2 separate regions of the Homo sapiens genome follow, and region 1 is linked to region 2. The links come from fine-mapping of genetic effects on plasma protein levels. A gene starts in region 2. The other region holds a variant in brackets. All regions are shown on one strand. Distances are from middle to middle.

Region 1 (15,256 bases), 300 kb before region 2:
GCCCTCCTCCATGTCCTTGCCCTTGGCCCCGGGCCCGGCTTTTCCACACAGGTTGACCGCAATGCACATGAACAGGCCACACTTGTTCAGGAAGTAGCAGGTGATGTCCACAACCACCAGGAGCAGGACGAAGATGACGATGAGGATGCCCACGATGGCCCCGGTGCTCAGGCCTGAGGTGGGGCTGCCGTTGGCTTGAGTGGGAGAGAGATGGCTGGTGGTTAACAGACTGAGATGCGAGACCTCCAGACCCTGCCAGCAAAAGCCCCTGCGGGTGGGGAGGGCCCAGAGGACAGAGTCATGGCATTCATGCCCAGAGTGACACCTTCCTGGGGACCTTCTATGCCCCAGAATTGAGAAAACAGGGTCTTTCTATACCTTCCAGAGGGAGGGATGACAACATCATCTCACAGATTGGGGAACAGGGGTGAGCCTGGTCAGCTGGCCTCCCGTGAGTCCTGGGAGCAGACTGAGCCCCGCCTGTCTGAGAACACCGGATAATGAGGCAGTTGGAGGGCGCTGCTGTGTTTCCCCTGGACCAGGGCAAAAGGCTTTGCAGCACAGGCAGGCAGTGATCACTGATTTCAGGCGGGGCTGTGGCTCCTCAAGTGCTCAGGGATAGGGGCCCAAAATGGGGTGGTGGAGGGTTCCTGGGGCTTTCTTGGGGCTTGTTGGGTTGTCCATCACAATAGCATCCCCATTATACTTCTCCACTTCCTCTTTCCCTCTTTAGGAATGACCCCAAAGGAGCCCTGCATTAGAGCACACTGGGTTCATAGTTTACCCTCCTCACTGCACCCCAGGAAGACAAGTGAAGCCTGGGTGACTCCAGAGACATGGAGGCCTCCCCAGGCCATGGGCAAGGTGAAAGGTCTGGGAATACTCACCATCTAGGAGCTCAGGCCTGCTTGGACCAGACTTCAGGAAAACCTGAAGTGAGTGCAGACTCACTCAGAGGTGCACACACACACAGGCACACTCACACGCAGGATAAATGCCCATGCAGACAGGCATGCACTCTCACATTCTAGCACCTGGCACCCTGGTTCTGGCTGGACTCACTGTGAAAGACTCAGCCTGTGTCTTACTTCCCTGGTGCCCATCTGCAATCCCCCCAGGGTCTTTGGCTATTGATGGTTTCACAGAGAGACCTGGACTCAGCTCTCTGGGGCCCCTGGGAGATCAACCCATGGTTACGATTGACACTAGTTGCCTGGGATGGACCAATTGACCTCTTGGTGGTTCCCATCAGTGTCTGGGAGACAGTGGTCATGATGCAGGAAGCAAGGACCCATGTGGAGCTCTGCCATTAAGTCGATGTGGGAACAATCACCCTCGACTGAAATATGGGCACTTCTAATTCATCTTTCCTCCAGAACAACCTGCTTCCATAACTGGCAGCCCTGCCCCACCAGTAGACTATGTCTAAAGCTTCCTGTGCTCTCAGGGCCAACTGAAGCCACCCAGGACTGCAGACTGAAGATGGGAACTGTAGCCAGCACTACCTGGGGCTCACCCCACCAGCCACCCCACTCCCAACCCAGCTCGCTAGGCTTTGCCAAGCACCAGGCCAGGCTCAGCAGCTTGCGAGCCATGTAACATGCCAGATAGATAGTGGAGGGAACATGTAACTGAGTAACCAGCACCAGAGCTGGGCCACACATTTTTTGTTTTTCATGCAGCCTGTATTTGCGGGAGGGTGGTGGTATTGATGGCTCTGTGTGCCCCAGGGGTCTCTGTCCAGGCACTCTAGTGCTTCTCTGGTGGCTGTCCCTCTCCACTGGTCCATATTTCAAACTTCAGTTTGGGGAATGGGCCATCAGCCTAGCATGCCAGAGAGGATCCCTCACAAATGACTCCTGAGACCCCTGGGTGCAGCTCGTACATGTTTTTAGTCCCTTTGGGACCTTGGCTTGCCTCCCAGCCCTTCCTCCTCAGGCTCTCTGGCTGGTCCCTGCTGACCTCGCACTGAAGATCCTAGCGCATTCCCCCAGGAAGGCTTGAGATGGCGAAGAACTCTGCTTGGAGAACCCAGCTCTGGACACCTGTCTCTGGGCTTTGGCAGCAGGAAGCTGGCCACTGGCCTTAGCCGTCAGCTAGAATGGGTCATTTTCTTAGCAGCCATGAATGCAGAGGTATTTCTGGTTAGTCTCATAAGAACAAAACCATCCACTTCCCCAGAGTCCTCACACATTCCACCCAAAAAGCAAAGGAGACACAGGCCTTCTTGGTCTTCAGGATCCCATAGCTGTTTCCCTGAACAGGGAAGAAACTTTAGCCTTGGGTTTTCTCTCCATTCCATGACACAGGGCTCCAGGCCACTGCAGCTTCCGGACATCAGTACCCGATAGGTGTAAAGTGCCTACTCCCTGAAGAAAGATCTGAAAGTATTTTTTTGATGACAGTGGGGAATATGTCTGGATTTTTGGACTCAATGGCACTAATTATATCTTCTGAGGTTTATGTGTAAATATGATTTTGTGAAACTAATCATATCTCTAAAGAGGAAAAATAAACTCCTGCAAAGCTGCTCTATGTGCTTGAGAGGACAGCAGCTGGGACAACTGCTCTGTGCTCATCAGACCCAGCTGGAGGGCGGCACTGGCACTGCGCACATCCAGGGGAGGGCCAGGCAGGGAAAAGGCTTCTGAACTGTGGCATAAACAAGTAGGGCAGCGGCCTCCCCTTTCATTTGAATATAAAATTCAAAGTCTTTCTCCCGGCCTAAAAGGCCCACCATCTGCTGCAGACTCTGCCCACTCCTCTGTTGGGCCTCATGGCGTGAACCGGCAGCCTCCCTTCTGCCTGCTGAACACATCCAGCTCAACCCGCTTTAGGGCCTTGATGATTCTGTGCCTGGAACACTCCCTCCAGGGTGGCTCTCTGTTGTCCTGCAGGCCTCAGTCCCAGTGTCACCTTCTCAGAGAAGCCTTATCTGATCTCTTATCTAGTGTGGCACCTCCAGCCAATACCTACCATGCTGCTAGCCTGTTTTATTCTCTTCTAACTACTATCTGCCACTTTCTGTTCATTTACATGCTTATGATCTAGCCATCCCCCCTAGGACATCCCAGCAGGTACCCTGCCTGTCTCTCTTGTATCTCCCCAGCATCTAGGACAATCCTGATTCACAGAAAATGTTCAAAGAATACTTGTTGCACAAATGGATGAGTGTTTAGTCTGGAGACGAGAATACTATTTCCAAATATTTAAAGGTGTTATAACCAGAAGGAAGAAGTAGTCTTACTGTATATGGCACCAATGTGTGGAAATTATGGTGGTGGCAGATTTTAGCTCCATCTGAGAAAGGACTAATAAACAGGGCGAATCCAACATAGTGTGGGCTGCTCTGAGAGGTGAGTTCCTTGATGCTGAAGGCACTCGAGCAGAGGCCAGAAGACCCCTTGGCAGGGACGCTGTAAGGCTGTGGATGAGGCTCCCACACTGGGCAGGAGCATGGGTGGAGAGTGTCTCTTCAACCACAAGAGCCTGTCATTCCAAGTCATACATTCTACACTGCCTGGCACACGGTACAGGTTCCCTAATGCCAGTCTCCAGAGTGTGGACTGAGAAAGACTTTTTCCTGGAAGACCAAAATGCTCGGTAGGTCCCATATTTAATCACTGATCCTTGTGATTTTATTTTTGCATGACAAATACCTTTAAACTCAATATATCTCCACCTGTAGCAAATTCCTAGGGTGTTTGTTAACAATTCAGAATCTGGGGCTCCCCACTTTTATGGGATCTGAATCACTGGGTATGAGGCTCAGGAAACAGGAGTTGAACAAGCAGCCCAGGTGATTCTTATGAGGACCACGCTCCTAGGTCTTCCCTCCCCTGCATTACAAAGAGGAGCACGTGATCCCATGATTTGCCACCCCAGGGTGCACTGTGCTGTCTCACCCAGTGACCCTGAAAACAAACTTGACCTAAGGTATTGAGTGGATCAAGAGAAAACAAAGAGTATGCCCCAAAGGAAAAGCGACCATACTGTATGCCAACACTGAGTCTAAACTCCTCAAGCAGGTGAGATGCTCTTTAAGCTAGGAAGAGAATGTTTGTGGCTTTTACAAAAAAGAGGCTGTGAAGAAGGGACAGGCTGTGAAATGGGCAGCAGGGTATTGAAGGCGAAAGCCAACACCCATTCCCTCTCAGTGGCTATCACAGAATTGTTTAGTCCAAGATAACTAGAAGAACAAAGGCCATCTCCTGCCTCTTGTGTAATATTTCATAAAAGGAAAAATATAAACCTCCATGGGTCTGTCTTTGCTATGGTCTTCCCTCAGCCCTCCCTTGACTAACTCACCTGTGCACCTTGGATGCAAAGAAGGCTTCTGGGGAAGAGTTTCCCCATAACCTCGAGGTCAGAGCTGCCCAGGACAGGGAGATTATGAAGGTGGAGCTGTCCATCTTCTGTGATTCCTGGCTTGGGAGGGGTTGGCACTAAAGAGGGAACTGGCTTGCTCCAAGAATGAGACCCACAGATGCCTATTTTTGTATGCCTTAATATAGGAACATGGGTCTCACATTTTATAAATATCCAGATGGGCCTGAGTCCTTGTGCCATGAGACCCTGGTGCAGCAGAAATGCCCTTTTCACCCCCAAGACTCCCAGAAGATGGTCAGACTCTTGGAACTGTTGAGCTGGGGTTCTGGTTCACTCATAAGCCCTTTACATGTCTGCTTGCTCCTTCGAATCAGCTAAACAGATGGCTGGTCTCAGGGGCTTGCAGGATGCGTCTGAGTTAAGTGTGATTATGAATAGAATACAGTTTGCAAAGAGAATCTTCTCTCAGATTCCCTCTCCACAAGCTCACTCTGTGCAGCCTCTGTTAGGGATAGTATAAAGGCTGCTGTGTCATCAGGTGACCTTGCCACAGAGTTGTGCATCTGTTGGCTCAGAGTGTGGCCCCATCCCCATAGTGACCACCTCCCCAGTTCTGCAAAGGCATTTTCCCCTCCCACTGCCTGCTGGGGACTCCAAGGCAGCAATGCCTCTTAACAGCTCTTAGGATGCCTGGGAAAAAGAGATTGCTCCCCGTTAGGAAGAAAAAGTATTTCATTCACCAGGCTACTATTTCTCTAGGTAATAGTCTATCCAGGTACATGAGAGGCGGAGGGAAAGGGTCTTTGCTGCTTTGTCAGACACAACTATTGAATAAAATCAAGCCACGCTGGTGAGTTCACATGAACTGTTATTTCCTTTAATAATGCAAAGGTGTAAACTTCATAAAGCCCTCACTGATTATCTACACAACAATGTTAGCATTCTTATTAGTAGAAAAACATGATCCAAACCTGCTGTATAAATAGTCCAAAAATGAGCAAAGGGGCCCCATGGTGTGTGGAGCATGGGCAGCACAACTACAGGGCACAGGGGAGTGGGGTGTGGCTGAGCAAGGTGGGGTGCACTCACTCCTGCAGGGTCTCTGAGGGCTGCTGTCTCCAGGACTCCTGGCGGGGCTGGGGCTGCAGCTGTCACCAGGAACTCAGTGTCCGTGGGGAGTGGGTATGCGCTAGTGCTGCCTCCTGAGGAGCGCACTGTTACAAGCCGTGGGTCTGTCTAAATGGGACCCTTGAGGACCCTGACATTGTTTCAGCTGAGGCCTGCCTGACCCTGGGATGTGTTGAGATGACAGGGCCACGTCAGTCCTCTCCACACTTAGGACGAGATCTCCAAAGGGTCCCTTCAGAAAGATGGACACTGCCCCTCTCCTGTGGGTGGTCCTGGGATCAGGGGGAGGCAGACTCCCAAGCTGGGCCCTCCTAGGATGAAGCCGTGTGACTTCTGCCCAAGGTGATCCTAAGAGCCAGTAGCTCTCCCACACTGACCTGGGATCCTTATGCTCTGCCCTGTGCCCAAAAACCATGCCTGCCTCCACTGCCCTGGTGTGAAGCGCCATCTGGGACTCCAGCGGGGAGAGTTTTGTGGCTGGGTTGAGAGGCACTACCCTGCCTGAGCTACTGTGCAGCATGGAGCCTCTGATGTCTGCACGTGAGCCTCTAAACTGAGCGCTGGGGATTAATGGCGAGCGCCAACATAGGTGGCTTTGCCCCTCAGACCACAGCATGGGATCATTTGGAATCCCAAAGGGAAAGGCTAGTCTTTGAACATTAAAAAATAATAACAACAGAAAAAAATACATAAAGAAACCAAAAAGAACAAAAATCAAGCTTCCATGGAGATGCTCAGAGATGAGATATGTAGAATGATATGTGACCACAATGGGGGGAGGGAGGGAGTTTTTATTCAGTAGAAGGTCCATCCCCAAGCACACACACTGATATTACCAAGCAGGATTCAGCCCTGAGTCTCCACAAGGGACCTTAACAAAACACACCCATTTCCTCTCCTGGGTGAACTCCCAAGCAGCAGGGAGGAGCAGCTGGATTTTCAGGAGAGTTTAGAAAATGTCACTGAACCAACGCACCAATACAGAGGCTGGGGCATTCAGGAAGCACTGACAGGTTGGCTCGGCCCCAATTTATTAACCCTCCTGGGCTGGGCAGTCTGGGAGTGGCCTGTCCCTCTCCTTCTCTACTGAGCACACACAGGCCAGGTAGGGGACTAATGCCTGGTTCACAGTGGATGCTTCCAACCTGTCCTGTAGACTGATGCTCAAAGCCATTCTGTGGGTCACTGCTGAACCACGGCCCCACTCTGTGCTGATCTGCGACATGCTGCCAGGCAGCAGGGGAGTCACCCCGATTGGGAGACAAACACCTTTCAAAGCTGACACTTGTTGGCACATCATGGCTTGGCCCCGTTCACAGAGACAGTGTAAGGTGCTGGCCGTAATACGAGGACTGAAAGCACATCCCAGAACGTTCATCAGCCCCAGAAAATATCCAACAAATTCAACTTTTTTTCCAGTGCATGGGCAACAGGGGTGACTTCAGTTGCCCATCATGTCAGCAAAACGCTCATGTGAATCAGTGCGGTCTGGCTCTTTTAACATGGGCACTTAAATGCTTAATTGCAAGCAAAGCCAATTATTATTGAAGGGAGGACAAGGAGCACAGAGTTAGAATGAGGGGAATGTGTGGTGATTTTAACAATCTGACACAAGCTTTAGAAGGTACTTAGAATTCTTCCTCTGCTACATCATATTTAGGTTTGAACCCAAAATGCAACAAGTAGCAGATATGCAGAAACTTCTCTGTAAATCTAGCATGATGGTTTTTAAAAATAGCATTTAAAGAAAGAGCTCTCAAATTCTTTTTACTGCCATTAAAAAGGGGGCAAACTCCTTATGAAGTGGCACAAAAGTATCTGTGAGTGGTGACATGTCTGGAGGTAAAGCTTTTTCCAATCACAAAACCTTCTCTTCCACACAGAATGGTTGCTCAGCAGCTGTGGCCATGGTGGTCCTGCCAGGTTCTTCCAAAGGGGGCACTGATCTTTTTCATAGGAACTGGGCTTTT[A/C]AGCAAATTTAATTTTTGTGTTCAAGTTCCTAACAGAGCAAAAGAAGAGTCACTGCAGAGAAAAGCAATGAGACAAAGGTGTAGGATGCAGAATTGCCTCCCAAGGTTGCTGCAGGTGTCAAGCAATGGGTCCCCAGAGATAATGTGGTTGTTTAAAAACAAATGTGGCAGTGGGGATGTCCCAGTGACGTCCAAGGTGACAAGTGTGACGACAGACACAGGAAGGGGAGGGGGACAGAAGGAAAGGGAAGGTAGAGACAGAAACAGAGAAAAAAATAGATAAAAAGAAAAAAAATTAGGTCAACTATAGAAAACACAGAATCAAAGGTTAATTCAACTTAGTAAATTAAATTGACAAAGGTTAGAGAGGGTTCAGTGCAGTATCAATACCATAAGGCCAGTTCAGAAGCTCAGCAATGCCAGAAGCAGCACAGCAGGGTTAATTTGGGGGCTAGGGATCAGCGAGCAAATGAAATTAAAGTGAGAGAACAGAAGCCTCCACGCTAAAATACAAGAGTTTGATTAGGAGAGTGTTACCTTTCACTAAGGTGAAGCCTCTTAGATACAGCCAGCAAGTGTATTGTCTTCTAGTGTCTAGCGTGTTTTACCCATAGTGGTGGAGATGCATTGGATCGCTGCACTATGAGTCAGCACACTGTGCTTAGGGATTGGGGATGGCCTTGTCAGAGATGAAGCAGGCTTTTCTTCCTATGGCACAAGTCCCACACCACAGTGCTGTTAAAGGAAGTCTCATTCTGTACCCCGCTTCACCTTCTACCCTGCTTGCTGACCACAGAATTCAACCACAAATGTCCAACTTGTAATTCAGAGAGGTTTTATTCTCGGATCCCAATTCAATGGCCAGGAAAGTCTAACCGAGAACACAGCCACCACCTTCTCAGATCTGTGCAGGAGAGCCACAGAGCCGTCACCGGTGAGGTGAGCAATCCCCCAGCCCTCTCTGGCTTAAGTGGGCACCTGGGCGATTCACAAGAAGGATTCTGATATCTCCAGCAGGCACAACTCTGGAGGACAAGGTCTACCCAGAATTTCGGTCTCTGACACAAAAACCACAGAAGCCAGTGCTGCTAGGAGTACCCAGCATGTGAACACAGCAGGTCCAAACAGCCTACCCAGTGAGTCTCACCCCAGGGAGCAATTGCCATAAGGAATCTGTCTTGCTGCAAAGGGCTTACTCAAGCCTCACCTGATCTCACCTCCTAAGTGTCCCATGAAGGCCAGACAGATCTGGACATTCACTCCAAGCTGTCGATTGTAAAGGAATGGACCAAAGAATGGAGAGAAAGAAGGGGCAGAGGAAAAGCAAGGAGAACCTCCATTTGAACATCCTGTTAAGGTATAATGAGGACATTTCCTGCAGCCTTGCCCACGTGCCTTGCCTTCTGCACCGACCATCTGACCAGCGACTGTGGAGAAACACCCACCCCAGCAAGCACTGGGGAGCCTTCCTGTCAATGCAGGGTGGACCAATTGATGCTTCTGACCTACAGTGTAAAACTCACCTGCCAACTCACTGGAGGTCCAGCACACGTCTCCCAGACACACACATCCATGTACAAACAACCACTGGGAACCACACACTGATCCCGTTTTGTTGCTGCTCTCCTAGCCCATTTTTGCACATACATCCCTGCATCATAGGCAGGCCACAGCCCTCTGGCCTGTCTCCTCCTGGGAGGAGGAATCATGACCACCGAGCCAAGAGCCGGGCAAGCACTGAAGACAGGGCAGGCATGAGGGGGGCTGCCCAAGGCCGTCTTCCCACCACACTTGAACATGGCAGGGTCTATGGGGCCCCCCAACAGGCTGCAGCTGTATGTTCTATGCCCACCTCTCCTGCCTGGGGTTGGCATTTGGCTGGTCTGGAAAAGCAGAGTGATCAGTTGAAGAGCTCCTTCTTCTCTGAGGGATTTGGCCAAAAAGGAGACCAGCAAGGTTAGGTCTTGGATCCCTGGAGACAGATCTGTATCTCCTAGGAGAACTGCTGCCATCACAGTCTCTAGCAGACCGGATTGCTTTCATTGATGGTGCTTTCCAGCATCTATTTTCTCCACTTGTTCTATTACAAGTGGTTCAATTTAATCTGTTTCCATTGAGAGGCCTTTGGTAGATAGGGTTTGTAAGTAAATGGGCATCATCTCTTCCTTCTCTTAGGGTCACCACAGAGAAGAGATTTGGACCATGGCTGTGCTCATAAAGCAAGCATCAGATAGGAAGTGCTTAGAAACAGTTATGTGGTCCAAGTATGATGTGGCAGATGGCAGATAAGGTCTCAAAAAAGGATCCTTACTCAACCAACTTCCAAGGCTAGGCTGGAGCTGGGGCATTTCCCATCTGAGGGGTCCAATGGACTGATTGGCATCAGTCCTTCAAGGCCAAATGGGACAGGACCTTTTCTCCAGGATGCTTGGCCAAGCCTTCCTGGGGGTCCAGTACATCTCACCCCACTGCACAGATAGGTACAAGGCAAAACTAAGCTTTGCATGGGCAACCAATCATGAGGATGGCTGTAAGCAAGCAAGTTGTCAGGGTTGTTCAGGCGCATTAGGAGGTGCAGCACTTGTGCATTAATTCAAAGCGGAAACAAACAGAAAGCAGAGGCAGCCATACCTGGGATGGCTGTGGGCTGGGCCGAGGTCCTGAACACAAAATGAGCCGCCTTGGATTTTCCTTGCTGGTTCTCAGCCACCACGTAGACCTCATACTCAGCATTCCAGTCCAGGGACTTCAGCATGACGTGGTCACTGCCAGACGGGAGCCTGATCTCTGGTTTCCACTCGGAGGAGAGCTTCTGGGAGAAACCGGCAAGAAGGATACAAGAGACCAAAAAAGCTTTAGATAAAAGTACTGGTAAGACCAGACAATAGGCAAAACTTACGGGACTCAATAACTTTTGGCATGAAATCATGAAAATAAGAAGCAATGATGGGGGTGGGCGCGGTGGCTCATGCCTATAATCCTAGCCACCTTGGGAGGCCGAGGCGGGTGGATCACTTGAGGTCAGGAGTTCAAGACCAGCCTGGCCACCATAGTGAAAACCCGTCTGTACTAAAAATACAAAAATTAGCTGGGCGTGGTGCCACACACCTGTAGTCCCAGCTACTCTGGAGGCTGAGGCAAGAGAATGGCTTGAACCCAGGAGGTGGAGGTTGCAGTGAGCCGAGATAATGCCACTGCACTCCAGCCTGGGTGACAGAGCAAGACTCTGTCTCCAAAAAAAAAAAAAAAAAAAAGCAATGATGGGACATGGTCTTTATTCTTTACCAGCCTGAAAAATTGCACAGGTCAGGAGGTCAACTTTGCATGCTGGCAAACACAAGCAACAGCAGATGCCAGTGTGGCATTGGGCCAACACCGTCAAGGTCCCATCACCTTCAGGGCATGCAGAGACTCAAGCACCACTCCTGTCTCCCAGGCTACACTCTGGTGCTGGGGACATATGCATAAGGATGTCCTAGAAGAGTAATAAAACAAGTACATTTCTTGTCATATTTCAGGATGCTGCTTAAGTTAAAGTGGCTGACTCACCTTCCTGATGTGTGAATACTGTGTAGATTCCAGTTTCGTTAAAAATGAAAACTATGGCCGGGCGCGGTGGCTCACGCCTGTAATCCCAGCACTTTGGGAGGCCGAGGCGGGCGGATCACGAGGTCAGGAGATCGAGACCATCCCGGCTAAAACGGTGAAACCCCGTCTCTACTAAAAATACAAAAAATTAGCCGGGCGTAGTGGCGGGCGCCTGTAGTCCCAGCTACTTGGGAGGCTGAGGCAGGAGAATGGCGTGAACCCGGGAGGCAGAGCTTGCAGCGAGCCGAGATCCCGCCACTGCACTCCAGCCTGGGCGACAGAGCGAGACTCCGTCTCAAAAAAAAAAAAAAAAAAATGAAAACTATTTTTGTTGAGCCCTTACTAAGAGCTAGGCACTACAAAAGCTTTACACACATTTTCTTGTTGTATTCCTACAACATGCCTGTGGGGTTTTGTCAGGCTCTTACTAAACCCAGTGATGGGGAAGTGAGAGAGAAGTAAGGTGACTAACGTAAAATCACACCTGCAGTCAAGGCTGGAGCTAAGTTCGTTTGGGCCCAAAACTATGATCTTTCCTTTTTTTTGTTTTTCTTAATTGTGTTCTTGAAAATAACAGTTTTAATTGATACAAAATAGCTATACAGATTTTCAGGGTACATGTGATAATTTAATACATTCACTTAATTTGTAAAGATCAAGTCAGTATAATTGAAATATCCATCACCTTAAATATTTTTCTCTGGGCTAGAAACATTTGAGTTATTTTCTTCTAGCTAGTTTGAAATATACAATAGGTAATTGTGAACTACAGTCACCCTACTGATCTATCAAACACTTGGCCGTATTTCTCCTATCAAACTGTATTTGTTTCCATCAATCAATCTCTCTTTGTCTTCTCCTCCTCTCATGATCTTTCCCTTCTATAGTAGGGAGCTCAGCAAACATCTGTTGGACTGAATAAGGTTTTTCTATTCCATGCAGTGTGACCTGGTCTCTACAACGGCAGCAAATAGATGGAGGTACCTCGGGACTAAGTTCTGCTGTCAAGTCCAACAGTGGGCTGCTCAAAGGGCCCACAAAGAACAATAATTAGGTAACCACCTCCCTCACCAAACAGTTTGTGGAAGAAGGCCTGAGAAGTCTTCAGATGGTTTCACCATTGCACAGCCCATCTCTTTGCAATCTTTGGCCTTTTCACAAGGCAGGTGCCCTGGGATATCTGCTGGGCACACAAGAAGTCTTGATAGATGTTTATTGCATGACAGGCTGCTCCTTGGAAGGGCAGAACACAATAGCACTGTCACCTGGACAGTGGTCTAGTAACTGTTGTAGGCCCATGGCTAAGGCTGGATGAGGAGTTATCTTACAGCAAAGCAGTCCTCCCAGGCAAAAGGGTTTGCACTAGCCAAAGAGATGCCTTTAGGAATGTGACAGTGCTCATGCTGCATGGGCAAATGCCAGTGGTGCTGGAAGGGGAATTCTAGTTTCCTTAGAGTCTAACCAGTCTGGCTATGCTGTAAGCTAGGATGTGTATATATCACTATGTGGCCCCACTTTCATTTAAAAGAAAGCAATTCCGGTATCTTTCCTCTTCATTTCTCTGTCTTCCTTGGCAAACATCATTATACAAGAGACAACCAGAATCTAGAGAAAATGTTATATTATACTTATTCATAATATAAAATTATAATATTTAGCAAACATGAATGAGGTTTTGAAGTGAGAGAGGGTGGTTACGGTTGTTGAAATCTAACATATTTCAGCGTTGTGCCCAGCTGTGTCTTTCTAATGCAGAGCTGCCTGCTGCAGCCACAGTGGCTCCTCAGACAAACTGACATCCGACATGGTTGGAGATGTCATACGGGAGATGGTTCCAGCCTGAGCCTGCCTCTTAGCAGTAACCATAGTGACCATTTATAAAGGTTTCCAAGTGTCAGGTGCATTTCAGGTTCTTTGCATATATTATAATGCATCTTTATAACAACTCAATAAGCTATTTTATCCCCATTTTACAGATGGAGAAATTGAAGTTCTGAAAGATTAGGTGACCTATTCTTCCAGAATAAGTAGTAAAGCTAGAATTGGATGCCATGTCTGTCTGGCTCTAAAACCTATGTTCTGTCCATGGGGCCACATCAGGATAACCATTGGAAAGGCATCCCAGCCTACCACATCTCTGCTTCCAGGGGTATATTGGGGGCCACCTGCCCAATCCTTGCACCCTACTTGGCAGTGAGGAAGCCATGGGGACCTCTCATTCACTGGGATCTCTGGACTGGGCCTCAGGGCAGTGACAGGCCTTTCCTACTATTTCAGCTCACATCTGCTTACAAATTAAGTGGGAACAAGGCCTCTGCAGCTGAGAAGTATGCCTGCGGGGCTCTGTGCTGAACTGACTTGCCAGAAGACTAGCTAGTTAAAGACCTATCACTTCCACAGGAGCTGATCACAAGGCAGAGAGGAAGTAACTCAGCTTCCCAGAAAAAGTCTTCCTTGGGGCTATGTGAAGAAAGGAAACTGCTCCCTGGTTCATTCTTTTCTCTACTACGAAACCCCAGCAAGAGGTTATTCTCAGTGCTCAGATGTGGCCTCTAAATCTCTCAGCCATTGGTTATAGTTGAAGATGACCAAGTGTCATTCTAAAACCAAAATGGAAAGGGTGATTTTCAGTGTGGGGGTTGTGATAAAAGGTGGAATGAGGGGAATCTTAAGTGGGTGGTGAGCAAACCAGGAGAAGGTGGCTTAGAGCCAACTTGCTGTTAGCAGGATTAGGACAGCTCAGGTGGCCAAGTGAAGGGCTGGTGAGGGAACTGGCATTGTTTGAGGACCTTAGGCAGCCTTGGGCAGTGGGGAGAGCCCAGCCTCTCAGTCAGGCTTGGATTCAAACTGCCTCACCCAGCTGCGTGAGATCCAGCAGTTATTGACTGCTGTACACCCACTTACTTCATCTGTAAAGAGGGGATAATGGTAAGACCTACTGTACAGGGTTCTTGTGCAGAGAAAATGCATGTGATCACAGTGAGGTGCAGGTGCCTGGCCTACAATACACATGTTATCCAAGGTAGGGATTCTTATATATTAGTATGGCATTTACAAGAAGTACTAGATAATGGCAAAATAACTTTGTAGAAAAGTTCAAGACACAGAAAAATCAACCATGGTATGGGTTTGTCACCACCACAGTCATCTATGAGGTTTCCAAATGGACCCAGTGTGAACATGACCTAATAGCTGTAGGGCTGTCTTGGGATTTTAAGCCATGGCCAGGGCCCATGGGCCACCTGCCAGACACAGAATAAGACCCCATCCCACCCCTGCCCCGTGGGCTGCCCCTGTTGTTTCCCTAGCAAGCTGGGTGCCAGGGTTGCAGGGTTCTGGTGAAGTCTGAGAAGGAGGCCACTCACCGCTCGGTACCTGACCAGATAGTGTCTGATGGGGGAGCCGCCGTCATCCTGCTTGATCAGGTTCACTTTAATAGAGTTTCCATCCTCTCCCATCTGCCCTTCGAGCTTAGGTGCACTGGGTTCCCCTGAAACAGCCAGTTAATTCACATGAAATTCTCATCCACAGAATGAAAATCCAACCCATCTGAATGGGATGGAGTGACAGGGTGGGGCTGGACACTTTTCTTGCTTTCTCAGAAATTCAAATGGTTAAAAAGCAATAAATATAAAACTGAATTCCAGGTAGATGCCTCAGACTGAGCCCAAACTGAGAGTGCCTCTTGGGAATGTTCTGGTAAATAGCCTTCCTGTGAGCAGGGTCCTTTCACCATTTTAGGAATAGGCTTTTTTTTTTTTTTTTTTTTCCCCTGTCTCACTGGTACTTATGTTTCCTTTTAGCTGGTCTTACAACTGAAGATTTAATTTTTATAAGCCTGACACATCTTGAGGAACAGCCTGAAATAGGAGAAAATAGAAGTGTTTGAGTAGGAAACTCCCACCTATAAAATTATTTTGTAAAACAGCCCAGTTTCTTGCCGGGACACATCACTCACCCCTGGGACTGGGAGGCCTGATCTCTAGTGGGAGTAAATAATGCTGCATTCTTGGGACTGGCTTTTCATGAACGACATTTTATTACTTAGATTCGTTTAAAAAATAAGAAGTTTCCGGTTGTGATTAAATAAATCACAACTTGCCCCAGGCAAGTTTTTTGTAAGTATCCTTATGGCTCTTATGCAAGTTTCCTGTAAGTATCCACTAATGGTTCAAATGAGTGAGTGCTAATTCTCAAGACTTTAATGTGTTAAAGTAACAATCAGTGCAGTCTTTTTCTTT
Region 2 (15,239 bases):
CAATTTTTATAAATAGAGAGATTGAACCAGATGCACTTTGTCCTTGCATATACCAGACTTTGTTGAGGGCAGAAGCACCCTACTGAAAATAGGAGAATTAAATGAAGTCTAGACTACAGAAGAAAAAATTACCCCCAATCCATTTCTTATTCAGCTTAGAGAAAAATAGTAGTTGGACTTATACCGTGCCTGCTGCAAAATTTTGGATTCTCTTAAGTCAATCAGTCCAAAAGAAAATGTAAGTACTCATGAATATACATGGATGTCCCCCACCCAATAAACCAAGTTTCTGCACAGTCTTTCAGTGTGTGACATCCCACACTGAGCCCCACAGCTCTTCAGGGTCTCACTCTTTACTAATAGGCAGCCAGGGATCATTAGAATTTGAGGAGTTAAATGAAACAACATGAAACACAAAAGGAGATACAACAGCAAACATAATAAAGAGGAATTCAGACAAAAAGAGACAAGAAGCAAGAGAAATGTTATGAACTCCTCAGCGATATGAAAGATATTGCATCAAGAAAGAAAAAGATGCTATGCTAGCTCTTCAGAGGCCTCTTTCCGTTACTTCTTCATTCTTCATGTTTCAAAGAATCAGGGTTGCCAGGTAAGTGACTTCCAGATTAAGTGACTTCCAGATTAATGAAGTGTCACCAATATGATCTTTAGCAGCAACCATTATTTAAATACACTAAATTTTATGGCTCAACCATTATAGTGAATTGACAGATTTGATATTAACCCTATGCAAATGGAAAGGAGAATCTAGATAAACCACTTTTAATTTTTTAACTATTACTTTTGTCAAAATCAAGATCTACTAGGCTTTGCTTTCATAGGAGGTAAAACAGCTCCACAATGAAGCATGGCATTTCCAACTCAGTTGCAATTCACAGTGATCCTGAACTCTCAGAACATGAAAAATAAATGGAAAATGTGATTCTCATTAGAATCAATACTTAAATCCAACGCGAATTGTATATCCCTTCACTGTGAACTTTAGCAGAAAGAAAGGATATGGGAAAAAATTGCTGAGCTCACTATGTGCCAGACAGTTGTATAAACTACCTCATTTCATCCTCACAATAACCCTATTAGTTAGGTATTATCCCTGATTCACAGATAAATAAACTGACCGTTGGAGATTAAATAACTGGCTCAAGGTCATGAAAAGCAGGAGAGTCACAGTTCGAAATGTGGGTTTGATACCAAAGGTCCATGGGGCACCCTGTGCAGTATGCACTGCCTCCAACACCAAAAGGAGATACTAAATTCAGAAAGAAAGAAAGATAATTTATAATTATGTACCCAAACCAAAGAGCTTTCATTGGATTTCCATCTTCTTATGCCCTTGATAACAGGCCTTTAAGGCTGCTTAAAGTACACCTTTATGGAGTACTGTAAGTCCAATTCTCATATAGCAATTGCAGCTTAACTGGTGACTGGCAGCCTCTCATGTGAACAGAATGGACACTCAAATTGAAAATGACTAAACGAACATTAGAAAAGTAATCAATCACTCCTGTGCTGATCTGATAAAAACAGCACATCCAATTTGTGACATGCAGAACAAGCTTCAAAAGATTTTGCTATAGAAACATTTTTTAAAGGTCTAGAAATAAATGTATGAACACCACAGGCAATGAGGTAAGAAGACAAAACTGAATCTAAAAATAATCAACTCATATGATAAATGAAGTCACTGGGGAAAACCCTTAACTTTATTCATTTCCTCTGGCATAAAATTGTCCTGTTGTCCTTTGCAAAGGTTGCTCATCACCTCTCCCCTCCCTCTGGCTCTTTTCCGTGGTGATGCATAGTTCAATGCGCCCAGGAAGCTTCATGATGAGGCCGTCACCCAAACTAGCAGCCCTCCTTTCCTTCTTTCTTTGCCAAGTGTCCTGGACATCAGCTCTTCCTCAGTCTTTGACTCTAAATAAAGAACTTGAATTTCACCATTCAACTGAAATCCCTCTGACATCACTACTCTCCTCTGACACAAATCCCAAGTTTCTACTTAATTCTCACCTACTTTATACTTTTAACCACCCTTAGTACTGCTGCCCTTGTTTTTACTGCACTATTTGTTTTGCAAAGCAATATGTGCTCATTATCAAAAACTCAGACAACATAAATAGTGATTTACCGTCTTCCAGTCTTGATTACAGGGTGAGTGAAAGACGTTTTTTAACAAGATTGGGATTATACCTATATATATTATTTGTTTCCAACTTTCTTTCACTTCACTTTATTATACTTTTCTAACCTAGGCTTTTGTGCCACTAAGCTCTGGTTCTCTTCATTTGTTCACTATTACCTTCTGAATTATAGGCAAGATATCATTCTGTGTGCTACATAAACACTGCCACATAAATACTTGTGGGCGTGATAAAAACCCCGCAAAGTACTGACCATAACTCATGGTGTTTTTCTCTCCACTGAACATATAAAAATATAGATTACTACCATCTTTGAGTCTTCCTAGTCTCTTTAACTGGGATTCCTCCATTCACCTCCCAAACAGGGAACACACATACTTACCTCATCAACCCTTCCTCTCAGCGGAGATAAATTCTTCCTTCAAAGTCTCCTTCAACTCTCACCTAAAGTTGTGTGAATTCTCCAGTGTCTGCATATTTATTTCATTCCCTCAAGCTTATAACTTTAAAGAGCTTTCTCTCTCTCCGTCGTCTACCATTTGGGATCCATCATCCACCCTTGCTGGTTGCTTTGTTATTTCTAACATCTCAGCTATGCCCCTTTTATCCTTATCCAAAGTCATTACAAGTGTGTCTTTCCAAAATTATCTGCTTTAAAAAATATACCACAGTTGGGTTTCTTTAATCTAACAAGGACCTCTGGCAGTACACAAAATTTGATTTTTATATAATTTTCAGCTACATGTCTACTAATAGAATGTACAGCTGTAACCACCCTCTGGTTCCCAGGCAATATTTATCCTGACTCTGAAACATTAAGTGCCTCATATTTTGGCTGTAGATGCTACCTGGTATTCCCAGTTATCTTTTCATTCCCAAACAGACAGTAAGATCTGTAAGGTCAAGGTACCATATTTAGGGCACAATGATGTGCACCTTCAGTCCCAGCAACTCAGGAGGCTGAGGCAGGAGCCCAGGAGTTTGAGGCCAGTCTGGGCAACACAGTGAGATACCATTTCAAAAAAAGGTATAACATTTAGAGTTTGATTTGTTTTGTTTTTTTCACACCCTGTCGTTAACTGACTGCTTAGATGCTCAATACGTAACTTTGCTGTCATTTCTTCCTCCCCACCCTCACAACCCATTCAGTTTCTATTCTATACCTTCTGACGTACTCTTACTCCACTACAGACTGCTTCACCCTCTCTTTGATCCCACATTCTTCCTTCGATGACAGTAGCTTCCAAACTCTTTTGACCTGAGCCAAAAGAATGTATTTTCCATTACAACCAAGTTACATATTACACAGAGAGAGAGAGAGAGAGACAGAGACAGAGAGAGAGAGAGAGAGAAATTGAAGTACTCAAAGCAGTACTTACCCTTATATAAAACACACTCTCTTTTTCCACTTCTTCCCTCCTTCTCTCCCTCCTTCCTCCCCTTTTTCCTTCCTCTCTTACTTCTTTCTTAATATATATGGAAGCCCGTTAAACAGATTTCATCATCCATAGTTTGAAAAATACTGACCTACAAGTTAAGGTATTAGGAGGCCCAAACTTTTTCTAAAACCTAACCTGTCTCTTAATTTCTCCATCATATTTACAGTACCATGATTATTTAATTTCCTCGAGTTTGTAACTTCAAAGATCTTTCTCCCTCTCAGTCATCTACCATTTGGGATCTATCATCTACCCTTGGTTGCTTTGTTATTTCTAACATCTCAGCTATGCCCCCTTTATCCTTATCCAAAATCATTACAAGTGTATCTTTCCAAAATTTCCTGCTTTAGAAAATATATCATAGTTGGGTTTCTTTAATCAAACAAGCACCTCTAGCAGTACATAAAATTTGATTTTTATTTTTCAGCAACATGTCTACTAATAAAATGTATAGCTGTGAAATATTTCATTTACAATGCATTTCCCATATATTATCTTATTTTGTTCTTATATTCGATTGCGGAAGTTACAGTTCAAAGAGGTTACATAACTGATATAAATTCACTTGGCTAGTTAGTAGCAGAGCAACTTCTTGAACCCAGATCTTTCGAATCTAAGCCCAATGGTGTCCTTTCCCCGCATACAGGTGTTCCTACTGATTAAGCAAGATACTTTCATTGGACTTCACTAGCCTCCCTTCTCCTAGTATCATCTAGTTGATGTTTCATACAGCAATAAAAATCCCTTCGTTAGCCCTTCATTTTGTCCGACCACCATAGTGGATGCTATATAAAACCAGAATTCCCTTTTAGTGCTGCAATGAACTATATGAATTTGTTCCTACTTAACTCTCTGCTAATTCCCAGCTAGTCCCAAACATAGAGCCTGAGGCAGCACACGCTCAGTTGCTATTGTTAACTATCCTCTTAAACATATATATATATTTTTAATTTCTCTGTCATCTCCAGCAGGACTCCTCTCCTTTGTCTGACATTTAAGATTTAAATATGGCTTGCCCCAAGTTCCAGCCTTTAACTGCTCTTCAATAGCAATTCTTTGGCCAGATCCACCTCATCCTATAGGAAAACAGGCCCTCTCTCCCTATTTACCTTCATATCTGTGGAGGTCCAGGTCAGTTCTAGCTTTTCTATACCTCTTTTTTCCCCCAGACATTAAAACTAATAGACATGATTTTTGCCTCTCAATTTTCCCAGTTTTTACCTGCCTGCTTCATTCGGGCACTTACTGATATAATATCTTTCATGATTTCTTCGCAGCTTGAACTAAGCAAAAGTGCTTCCTCTCCAACCACCTGAAAGGGTCAGTATAGTAACCTTAAATTTATTTTGTTTTTCCTCTAAGCCTCTAGCACAGAACTTTGCACATCATATTCAGAGTACTGTACACCTTTTTAAACAAACATTTCAAATAAAATATCTGACCACAGGGAACTTTTTTAAAGCACATAATGAGTACATACTTTATATCTGCTTTACATATGTGGTTTTATTTCAGCTCACCAAGACCCACAAGGGAAGTGTCATTAACCCCATTTTACAGATGGGGAAACAGGCTCAGAACGACAGCAACTTGCAGAATGGCAGGACGGTTCCTTCAGACCACAGCTCTGAATAGTGCCCTTCCTCCCCATCACTCCTCCCACACTTTGGTCAGACTCAGTCCAGAAGCCACAGGAATTCCTGTTTGCTTGGCATGTATTCAGATGCTATATATATTCAAATTATCCTTGCCTTAGAAAAGGATAAAATTCAGACAACGAACGTAAGTTGCAGTCCCAGCTCCACCTGCCTAAGTCATTTAACCTTTCTCAGTCTCAGTTTCCATTTAAAGACTTACAATCTGGACTTGCAGAATTTTTTTTTCTCCTTATCTCTGGCTACTCCTCCCCACTACTCTCACACTGTTCCCCATGTACAACCAGATTCAGATCTCAACCACTGCTCAGGGTGTCTGCTCTGCCCAGATCACCCCTTCTTCCTGCTCCATCTAATGAAAGCAATTCTTCCCCAAGCCCAGCTCGAGGGAGTCCCAGGCAGAATTAATTGCTTCCTTTCTTGTGGCCCAACAGCATTTACTTCATGCCTCTGTTTATAAGTATAGTATGTCTGTCTCCCCTCCTTCCAGGTGGTAAGCTCTAAAGGCAGATGTATTATTTTCCTGGACTTCATAACGTGAAACTCCACACGATTCCTGAAGCTATCTGACCTTCTCCAGACTTCACAAAGGTTTGTTGAGTTAAGGAATTCAGGAATGTTTGTTGTAATTCAATGTTTGTTGAATTAAGTAGTCAATCAACCATGCCCTAAAATGAGAATACCATCTGTTCTTCCTATTTCACAGTTGTTTAAATGTTACATCTTCACCTCCCCAACCACCCAATCCCCCTTGATAATCTCTCATCCTGGGTTTTTCTTAGACTTGAATCTGAATATGTAATTATAAATGTATGTGTTACTTTTTAATGTCTATATTTCTCTGTACTACTAGACTGGAAACTCCATGAAAACAGGGACGATGTACGTTTAGTTCACCGCTGTATTCCCAGCACCCAGCACAGAGCACGTACTCAGTCAATATTTACTAAATAATTAGTGTGAAGATTAAGCACATATCAAAGTGTTTTGTAAACCATAACGTGATGATTAAGATATAATTATTGGTATTATATATCCAGTTTATCTCCTTTTAGATAGCTAAAACAAAATCTTCAGTCTCCTCTCCAATATCATATGCCTTTAGCTGGCAAAACTACTTCTTGCCCTGCCAATCGGGCACTTACATCTCACTCATTTGAATAATAATAGCAATTGCTTTATTTTCTTCTAGTTAGTAATTTACAAGAATATCGGCAGTGACAAATATCAAATCAGCTCAGATCTCATTTAAGATCTTCTGTCAAATAAAAGTGAAATACTTCTTTCTAAAAATGACTTTGACTTCAATATATGATTCTAATCTTCAAAGCACTACACATACAACCTCTATGAGGTCCACGTTTAATAAACTGGAACGATTAGTTTATATTCCCAAGCAAGTGGGTCCAAGTGGACCAAAGGATAGTTGCTAAAGAAGGACCAGAAGTTTTCAGGGTTCCTCAACTGCATGGACTCCTTCCAAGGCTCTGGGGGACTGGGACTTGGCAATGTGTTCTCATGGTCATGTATTCAACTAACCTTCGCAAAAGCAAGAAGAGTTTTGTATTTTCCTTAAAGAAGGCCCTCAAAATTATATACCCTTCAGGCCCAACAAGACCTAGATCCACCCTTGTGCTGATGGTTTTCAACCTTATAATCAGGCCATTTTTTTCTCTGAAGTATTCACAACCAACATGGAATTGCAGGCATATTTAGTGACCAATTTTTTAAGCCTAGTTCTAATCTCTGAAGGAGTCCTGTGTATCATAATACCCTTTTTAAAATCCTTCTAAAAAGAGGGCACTATGTCTAAATAATTATTTTTTCCAGATCCATATATATCCTTCTTGCTCACTAATGAACACTGCCTACATGCACTGAAGTCCTAAGATCTCTAAAATATTTATAACTCTAACAAGTAGGCATTACTAATTTTCCGATCTCACGGAAGAGGAAACTGAAACTTGAAGGAGTTAAATCATTTGTCTGAGATCAGACAGCTAGTAAGGGATATGTCTGGGGTTTCAACCCAGGGTTATCTACCTCTCTTAATCTCTAGTCTCTACTACTCCCAAGGTTCCCTGACAGCAGAAATTATGTCATCTCACTCCTTTTAATTCCCCACAGAGCAGATGATAAAAAGCTGGCACTCAATAAACATATTTGATCAACTATTTAAGAGAATACCTAATGTAACACAATCTCAAACAGTGTGACATTACTATGAATATTCTTAAATGATGAGGTAATCAGATACCAAAGGAGGTGATTAATGTACAACAAAAGGCATTTTACACCTTATCTCAGGAATGACGCCAAATAGAAAACGGAAGATCAGCTGTTACCCATGTTTGCAGCTACAAATCAAAAAGTCCTCAGAGTACGAAGTGGAATATAGGTTACATAGAAGCCTTTTAAATCATATCAGCCATGCAATCTTTGAATTCAAGAAAGTGTTACGTATATATGGAAGAAAATAGAATGCATAATGGGTTTATTACAATCTGTTTTTCAAAAGCACACATACACAAGATACACCAAATAGCTTATCCTTTTAGTGCAGTCCTCTTGGAGTCTCCAATTGCTTAGAAGCTAAATTAATACTGCAGGAAAGGAAAAGTGTGTCTACCCAACTGAAAATCCGTTAACTCAGTGGCTGCATGTAGACATGGCCTGAGCATGTTTTAAATGTAACGTATTGAAACTGCCTGAAAGGCCGCCATTTGGCACCCAGGCCAACATCAAAAAGCAATGCTCCTAATGAGCATCTGCAGCTGAGAGACAGTATTTCAACAACATGAAATGAAAAGGCATAATGGCACCACTGCCAACGCCAAATAATTTACATCCCTTTACATCAGCAAATGGTTTTAAGGTTTGGCCCCAAGAGTTAATAACAAAAGAGGCTAGAGGTAACAGGACTATGACCTTCAGATTGACTTCTGTATTCTATTACCCTACAGTAAGTAGTAAGCATATCTACCTGTATTGTTAAAAATAGTTTCACTACAATGTTTTCGAATAGTGAAAACTCTGGAGCTCATAGAAACCTAATCATTAGGATTCAGAGGTCCTTGGACATTTCCTCCTTCCTAAAAGACCATCTCTTACAGCATTGCTCAGAGTCACTGAGTATATTATGAAAAGTAAAAAATTTTCTTCTTCGAATTTTACTTAGAATTCTTTCTTTTTAACCAAAGGAATTTTCACCTTAGTGACTTTTATTAAAAGCTCAAATGACTTCATTTTATACAGCCACGTGATTAATGTTTTCAATTTTGTGTAATTTGTAACCCAGTTTTAAGATCAGTAAAATGCTCCCTGTAATGTGCTGCCATTTCTTTTAAAGTTCCAGACATTCCTTAGTCTATATGTTATAACTGCTAAACTGAAAAATGATCAATTATGGAATTTACATTAAAATATTTATCTTGACACCAGAAAACATGTGTGTGCTCAAAAAAGCAATGCTGAACTGGTGCAGGAGAGCCTTTATAAGATGTCTTTGTCTCCTCCTAGTCTATGATTCTTCCCGCAGACTGACGGGGGCAGGTGCGATCCCTTCTCTCCCTGGCCTGCCAATTGGTTCTGCTCTCCATCACAAGCTCAAGATCCTAAAAGTGCAACCCGTTCTTTAGCAACAGGTACTCAATCACTTATTTTACACTAAGTCAGAAAGGACTGTCTGTAAAATGTCTTTGGAAGCCTGCCAGTAGTATTGAAGCCACTTTCAGTCTGGAGAGCAGCCACAGTTCTTTAATACTAAAGACAAAATTATGAGAAATTTATCAAACTCATACTTAACAGAGGCTTCATCACCTTGAAAAATTAAGTGGTTGCATCAGAAATTCCAGAGTCCATTATTTAAGCAGTGTAAATTTTACAAAATGCTCTCTATAATTTGAGAAACTGGGTTCTGTAGTGAACAAAAACATGTCTAAAGATTAGCTTTTGAGTGACAAAATGGTGCTGTTTACTTTGAAAGGCAATTAAGACATTGTTCCTTGTGACAGAAAAATACAGATATAGGTTACTTCCATTAAATTACATATTACCTATCTGAGGAATTCAATTAATGATAAATGGATTCCAAACAGAAGCACTGTTCAAAACTTGGAATTTGGGGGTGCTACAGACTAATTTCTCCTTCTTATTGCTGCCTTCAGTAAACACCCACATCCCTTACAAATAGCACACCCACATCATTTTTTTTTCAGTTTTGATGTGGGATTTTTTTTTCTTTGCAATTACTATCTTAATTCTTGAACTATCAAACTCAAGAAACCAGTCACCAGTTAAATCAACATATTCTTAGTTTAATCAATTATCATTGTAAGACTTAGAGGAAACTCCTTTACTAAACAAGAATATGTCCTGCTATTTTCTGGTATTCCATTTTTAAAAAAAAAATCCTAGATAAAGGTATCTGGAAGGAAGTTATCAGGTTCAACAATTTAGGGAAAGAAAGAGGGCGTTCATAAAGCATTAACTTAAGAAAACAGTTAAAGACTAATGGAAGCTTAGCTAGGTTAGCAGATCTTTAAGACCTTTATAGAGGGAATAGTAACTCAAAAACTTACATAAATCATAGCCCACACGTCTACAATGTCTGGATTATATTCCCTGTTTTTAATAACTCTGTTGGATTTAAAACAAATTATCAGTTATTAATATTTCTAAATATGCTAGTATTTATTGAAAGAAAATAATCTTTCTAGGGTTTGGTTAGAGTTGTGAAAGGTTTTCCACATTCTTATATAGCCTTTATTACATTCAGTGAAATTCTGTTTAAAAACACACATTCTCAGTCTTCAAATGAAAATCAACAAAAATATATGGCTCACTATAACTGTGCTCACAGTCAACTTTGTGGAAGCGCACCTTAATTTGCTTAGTGAGAGATATTATATATACTACTTGATTTCAATGTTAGCTTTTGTAAAGTAGCTCTTTGTTCTTAACCGATGGTATCTTGTTAGAAACCCAGTCCTATCCATTCCTTGACTCTTGCAAGTTTAACTGGCAGAAGACTGCAAAATTATCAAGTAAACATGTGACTTAACCATTCCAGATCGTTCAAGCGAACAATTCTTCAAAACATCCAAAATTTATACTAGAATAAACTCAAATTTACTATGCAATTGCACAACCTTTCATTGTATTTCTAAAGAGCAGAGGACACAGAAAGAGGAGAGGGGCAGCCCATCGGACTCACTTGACGTATTAAGGTTAGCTTGCCTTATATGTAAATTTTCATATGCACCCAGCCGAGCACACAAACTCAGTTACCACTGCCCTGGACATGCTACATTTGAGTCCAAAAAAAAAACAAAAAAAAAAAAAACAAAAAAAAAACCTCAGATATATATACATATGTATATATACTTGTTGTTATGTTTTCATTTTCATTCTAACCCTTTGACTTGAATTCTTTGATTTTTTTAAAAAAAAACTATGGTACAAAAGACATTTTAATGGGAAATTATTTCTCTTTGGAAAACCATTCAACTTCTTTCTTTTGTTAAGCAACCTTGTATGTGTTTCACGTTCTGCCTTCTTCCCATCCTCAAGGTACCGGGCCAGGAAAGAGGTCGCTTTCATTCCAGGGAACACTGGTTAGAATGCCTCCCCTGCCTGGGCATCCAGGAACATCCCAGTGGGAATTCCTGGGCCTGCAACTTCCACGGGATCCAAATACTGATGACTGTACCCATCACGATGATGGAAAGGACCGCCAGGCGATCCCCCAAAAGGCCCACCAAATATCCGGGCTCCATTGTCACGCTCCCACCCGGGGGCGAGGATGTCTCAAAAACACCCCCCTTCCCCCGCCCCATGTGGACAGGTCGCGTCGCGGCACCCACGGGCACCGCGGAAAGGGGCATAACCGGGGTGGCCCCCGCCCAGGTGGCAGCGGAGACCCAGGGCCAGGCGGACTAGGCTTGGTCCCCACCCCTCCTCTCCGGGCCCTGCCACGGCCCCGCCCCGCCGTCAGTAGAGCCCCCGGCCCGCGGTCGGCCGGTCAGCGCACGCGCGTAGGTGTGCCTGCCAGGATGCCCTCCCCGGCGACGCGCTCAGGCCCGGATTCCGCGGCGCGAGAGTGAGCGCTGGCGGGGGCGGTGGGATGCTCCAAGTCGGCGTGAAAGAGGCGAGAGTGGGCGAGCACGGGCGGCCGGACCAGGAGCACTCCCGGTGACCACCTAGTCTCCATTTTATTTCCTCGGAAACTGCCGGGCAGGCGGGGGACCGGCCGCAGGGCGGGGTTTCTCTTGGCGGTGAGTGAGCGAGACCGTTAGGCTGAAGCACCGGGAGACTGTCCTGGCAGCTCCTGGCCGCCACCCGCGCCGCAATAAAAGCCTCTCGCGGCTTCCCGCCCAGCCAGCTTCGCACTGATTGGTCGCCGTGGGAGGGACCCGAGTTGGCTGGAGGCGGCGGCCGAGCGCTGCTCTTGTGCCGCCCGCGGAGGGGGCGCACTGGGTGCTCCCTGGCCCGCCCCGTGCGCTCCCCAACCGGGGGTCGGCCGTCCAGGGCAGGTACAACGGTACCTGGAGCTGCGACCGCGACACACAGCCCCTCCGCCCGGCTTTCCTCGATCGCTTCCCAGCACACGCCCCCCGCCCAGAATGTCCGCCCAACCCACCCAGCTCTCTGCGGCCCCTGCTTTTCTTCCTTCCCTCCCGTCCATCAGAGCCAAAGCGCAAATCCTTGGGTGGAGGTGGGGGGATGACAGCTGGAGGGGAGGGTGGGCACGCACAGAAGAATTTTCCAGGGAGGCCGGGATGGAAATAGCCAAAATGAAATGCACCTCCCTGCACACTGCCGAGGTTCTCTGGGCGGCGGCGCAACCCCCGCCACCCGCGGCAGCATCACTACTGTCTTCCTCCCAGCTCCCTATTGTTCACACTTTGCCAGGATCGGGAACCTCGCCCAAAGAAAGGAGACAGGGCGAGGTGTTTCGGGCGGCTACCTGCCATTCTTCTCCCGCCCCGTGCAACACTGGGCACGCGGCGCGTGTAAAGACACACGCGCGCACACGCGCGCGCACACACCAGGCAGCCCCAATCACGCCCTCCTCGCCCTCCGCCCCTCCGCACTTCCTCCTGTCAAAACGCGGCGCTCGACCCTCCCATCCTTCAGTGCTCGCGGCCGAGGGTAGGCTTTGCAACTAACCAGCAATTTGGCAAATGAAAAACTAACGTCATGTCGACTGGGGTGCAACAACGGTCACACCAACAACAACGGCCGTGCGATTCTGCCCATTTTGCCCCATTTTGCAAACCGTTATTCTTCTGGGGCGGGGGAAGCAAAGCAGCGATCCTGACTTTATTAGACCCAGGAATATAACGATCTGGGGCGGCTGCCCTAGCCTTATTGTTCACTCTTCCCGGAGCCGGGGCTGACAAGCCACTTCCCCCTCGGAATCCGAGCCCGTGCGGCGGCACCACCCGAGCCGCGACCTCCCCCGCCCCGCCGCCCGCCTTTGGGGAAGGAGCGCTGCCCATCACCAGCGCGGCCGCTGAGTCCCCAGGAGCCGGCCGGCTCTGCTCCCACCGCCGCGGGCGCACAAAGTGGGAAGGGCGGACGCGCCGGAGGGGCGCCGGGCGCTGGCGGCTCGGGGAGGCAGCCCCGTGCAGCGCAGCCCTGGAGGGAGCGGGGTTCGGCTGGGCAGCAAGGGCGACGCGCTCCTTTCACAGCTAAACGAAAATGACCAGCCTTAGCAGTCCACGTAAAACCACCCAAAATAATAGCGTTCCTCCTAGGAGTAGGAGGAAGGGGTAATTAGCAAACCAGATTGAGAATTAAAAAAAAAAAAAATGTACCTGCAGTTCCCAGGAAAAACAAAGTCCAGATGAGATCCTTAGTTTGCAGCATTGTAATCTGCTGGCTGGGAGGGATGTTCTTGCCGCGGTAAATTCTGTGCCCCCCCCCCTGCAGCGAGTGTGGACGGCGGCTGAGCGACAGACCTAGGGGCAGACAATTGCCAGGCTGAGTATGATTATTTTTGCAGAATTGTTTCCTGCCAGCGGCAGCCGAGCTGCGTTCACGCGCTGATCGGAGAATGAGTGACAGTCCCAGCCTCAGCACACTCGCAACTCGGAGATCCTTGCGCTGGCCCGGGTTCGTTTTGATGGAACTGGGATGGGAGCGAGGAGCGGGGGGCGGGGGTGAGAACCTCACTGTGTCCTTCCACCACGCCGGCCACAAATAGTGCCGAACATCAAGGAGGTAAGAGAGACAGGGGAGGCAGATGCGGAAGCCTGCAAAACGCGGCCTGGAGCTTTTGGGGGAGCCGGGCTCTTTCACACGCAGTCTCCCTGGGAGAGCTGGGATTTCTTTTCACACTTCTACCCTACGCCTTCGCAGGCGCTCCTGCTACCCAGCCTTCCTTAATCAGCAGTTTGCATATTTTGATAACTAGTAAATAATAAAAGCAAAATTTTAGATTTGGTTAGGTAAAGTTGTCAAATCCCTCCATTTCGATTCTAAGATCCTTGCAACACAAGGATAGCCCAGGACTTTAAGTGCGGGAAATTAGAACTTTGGAGAGGGATGGGGGTTGCCGTTGCTGGGTGTTGTTTGGATATTGTTTGTTTGTTTGTTTTATCCTAACTGTGAAGTTTGCTCTCCCACAGAGAGACATACAACACCCTTCAGCAGATCCCCTGGGAAGGAGGTGGGAAGAGACTTAAGTTAGAAGAAAACTCCGATGTTTGGAAGAGATTTCCAGAAATAACCCGAAGAAAATGTTTTCCTGTTTATAAATTCTGAAATCTGTGGTCTCTTTATTAAAATAGCCAGGCTTTTATATAGGTATTATGATATAGAAGCGTCATTAAATAATATTTTCTTACATGGGGACGTGACCTTAATTCTTAAAGATATTAATGTATAATATTACTGAGGTACCAACACAATAGGCTTTAATTAAAATTCCACCCGTGTTTTCAAAAGTAGGGGGTGGAGAAAGCGGGGTGAAAAGAATCATGTCTCAGCACCTGAAGGCTTGGGTATGTAAGGAACTAATGTGAGAAAGGTGTTCTAGATGTCAGGTTAACCCATTAGCCTAGAACACTGAAACCCTCTAACAGAGGAAGTCTGCATAAGTTCAAAGGCATTAAAGCACTAATGTTACCGGGTACTCCGTTTTTCTTCAAAGGTCGGCCTCCCCACTCCTGTAGCAGGTTTTTTGTTTTGTTTTGTTTTGTTTTGTTTCTGTTTTGTTTTTTTGAGATGGAGCCTCGCTCTGTCGCCCAGGCTGCAGTGCAGTGGCGCCATCTCTGCTCACTGCAACCTCTGCTCCCGGTTCAAGCGATTCTGCTGCCTCAGCCTCCTGAGTAGCTGGGATTACAGGCGCGCGCCACCACGCCCAGCTAATTTTTGTATTTTTAGTAGAGACGGTGTTTCACCATGTTGGTCAGGCCGGTCTCGAACTCCTGACCTCGTGATCTGCCCACCTCAGCCTCCCAAAGTGCTAGGATTACAGCCGTGAGCTACCGCACCCAGCCGCTGTAGCAGTTTTTAAAAGTCCATCCTCTACTGTCAGGACATCCATCCTTATTGGACAGGCCCCATCTCTTCCCCACTTTCCTCCTCTATAATAGACCAAGTGGGCCACACCAGTACAGTGTAATTAGCTTGGACCCCTGAAAAGTATTTCTTCCCCCAAGTAAATCTTCCACAACGTTTACTTTGGGCTATTTCTCTCATTCCAAGTATAAACAATTCAAAAGTACAGAAAAGTAGAAAGAACTAAAAATAACCCCAAATCCCACAGATTCCAGAGATACTCATAGATTTTGTCTTCTGTATGTGCATATGATTTTTATAATTGACATATTATAGTAGCAATTTGAATCCTGCTGATTTTGCCTAACATCAGTATAAGCATTTATTCCTCTGGATCATTAAAAAGCTTTTCTAGATATTTTTATAGCTATGTAATATTTCTTCATATGGATGATTTTGCAATGGTTTCCCCATTT

The links. PIP is the chance, under the fine-mapping model, that this variant and not a neighbour inherited with it causes the effect. Sun 2018 read protein levels with aptamers (SomaScan).
Region 1: its variant is fine-mapped to the plasma level of the NCAM1 protein (Sun 2018, PIP 0.95).

What each region holds. Positions count from the first base shown.
Region 1 is chr11:113,255,126-113,270,381 of GRCh38, reverse strand. NCAM1 (neural cell adhesion molecule 1) reads right to left here. Exons shown (of 20, transcript NM_181351.5): 16 at 14,381-14,505; 17 at 10,059-10,236; 18 at 1-194. It overlaps NCAM1-AS1 (NCAM1 antisense RNA 1), which reads left to right. Exons shown (of 3, transcript NR_034101.1): 2 at 1-178; 3 at 734-850. Among named protein-coding and RNA genes, the nearest start is that of NCAM1-AS1, 11 kb to the left of the region's middle. The variant A/C (reference allele first, on the strand shown) is at 7,428.
Region 2 is chr11:112,959,502-112,974,740 of GRCh38, reverse strand. It overlaps NCAM1 (neural cell adhesion molecule 1), which reads right to left and starts at 13,321. Exons shown (of 20, transcript NM_181351.5): 1 at 13,077-13,321. The coding sequence starts at 13,128. NCAM1-AS2 (NCAM1 antisense RNA 2) reads left to right here and starts at 11,281. Exons shown (of 3, transcript NR_120563.1): 1 at 11,281-11,531; 2 at 13,265-13,374; 3 at 13,890-15,239. RefSeq lists an enhancer at 12,601-13,378.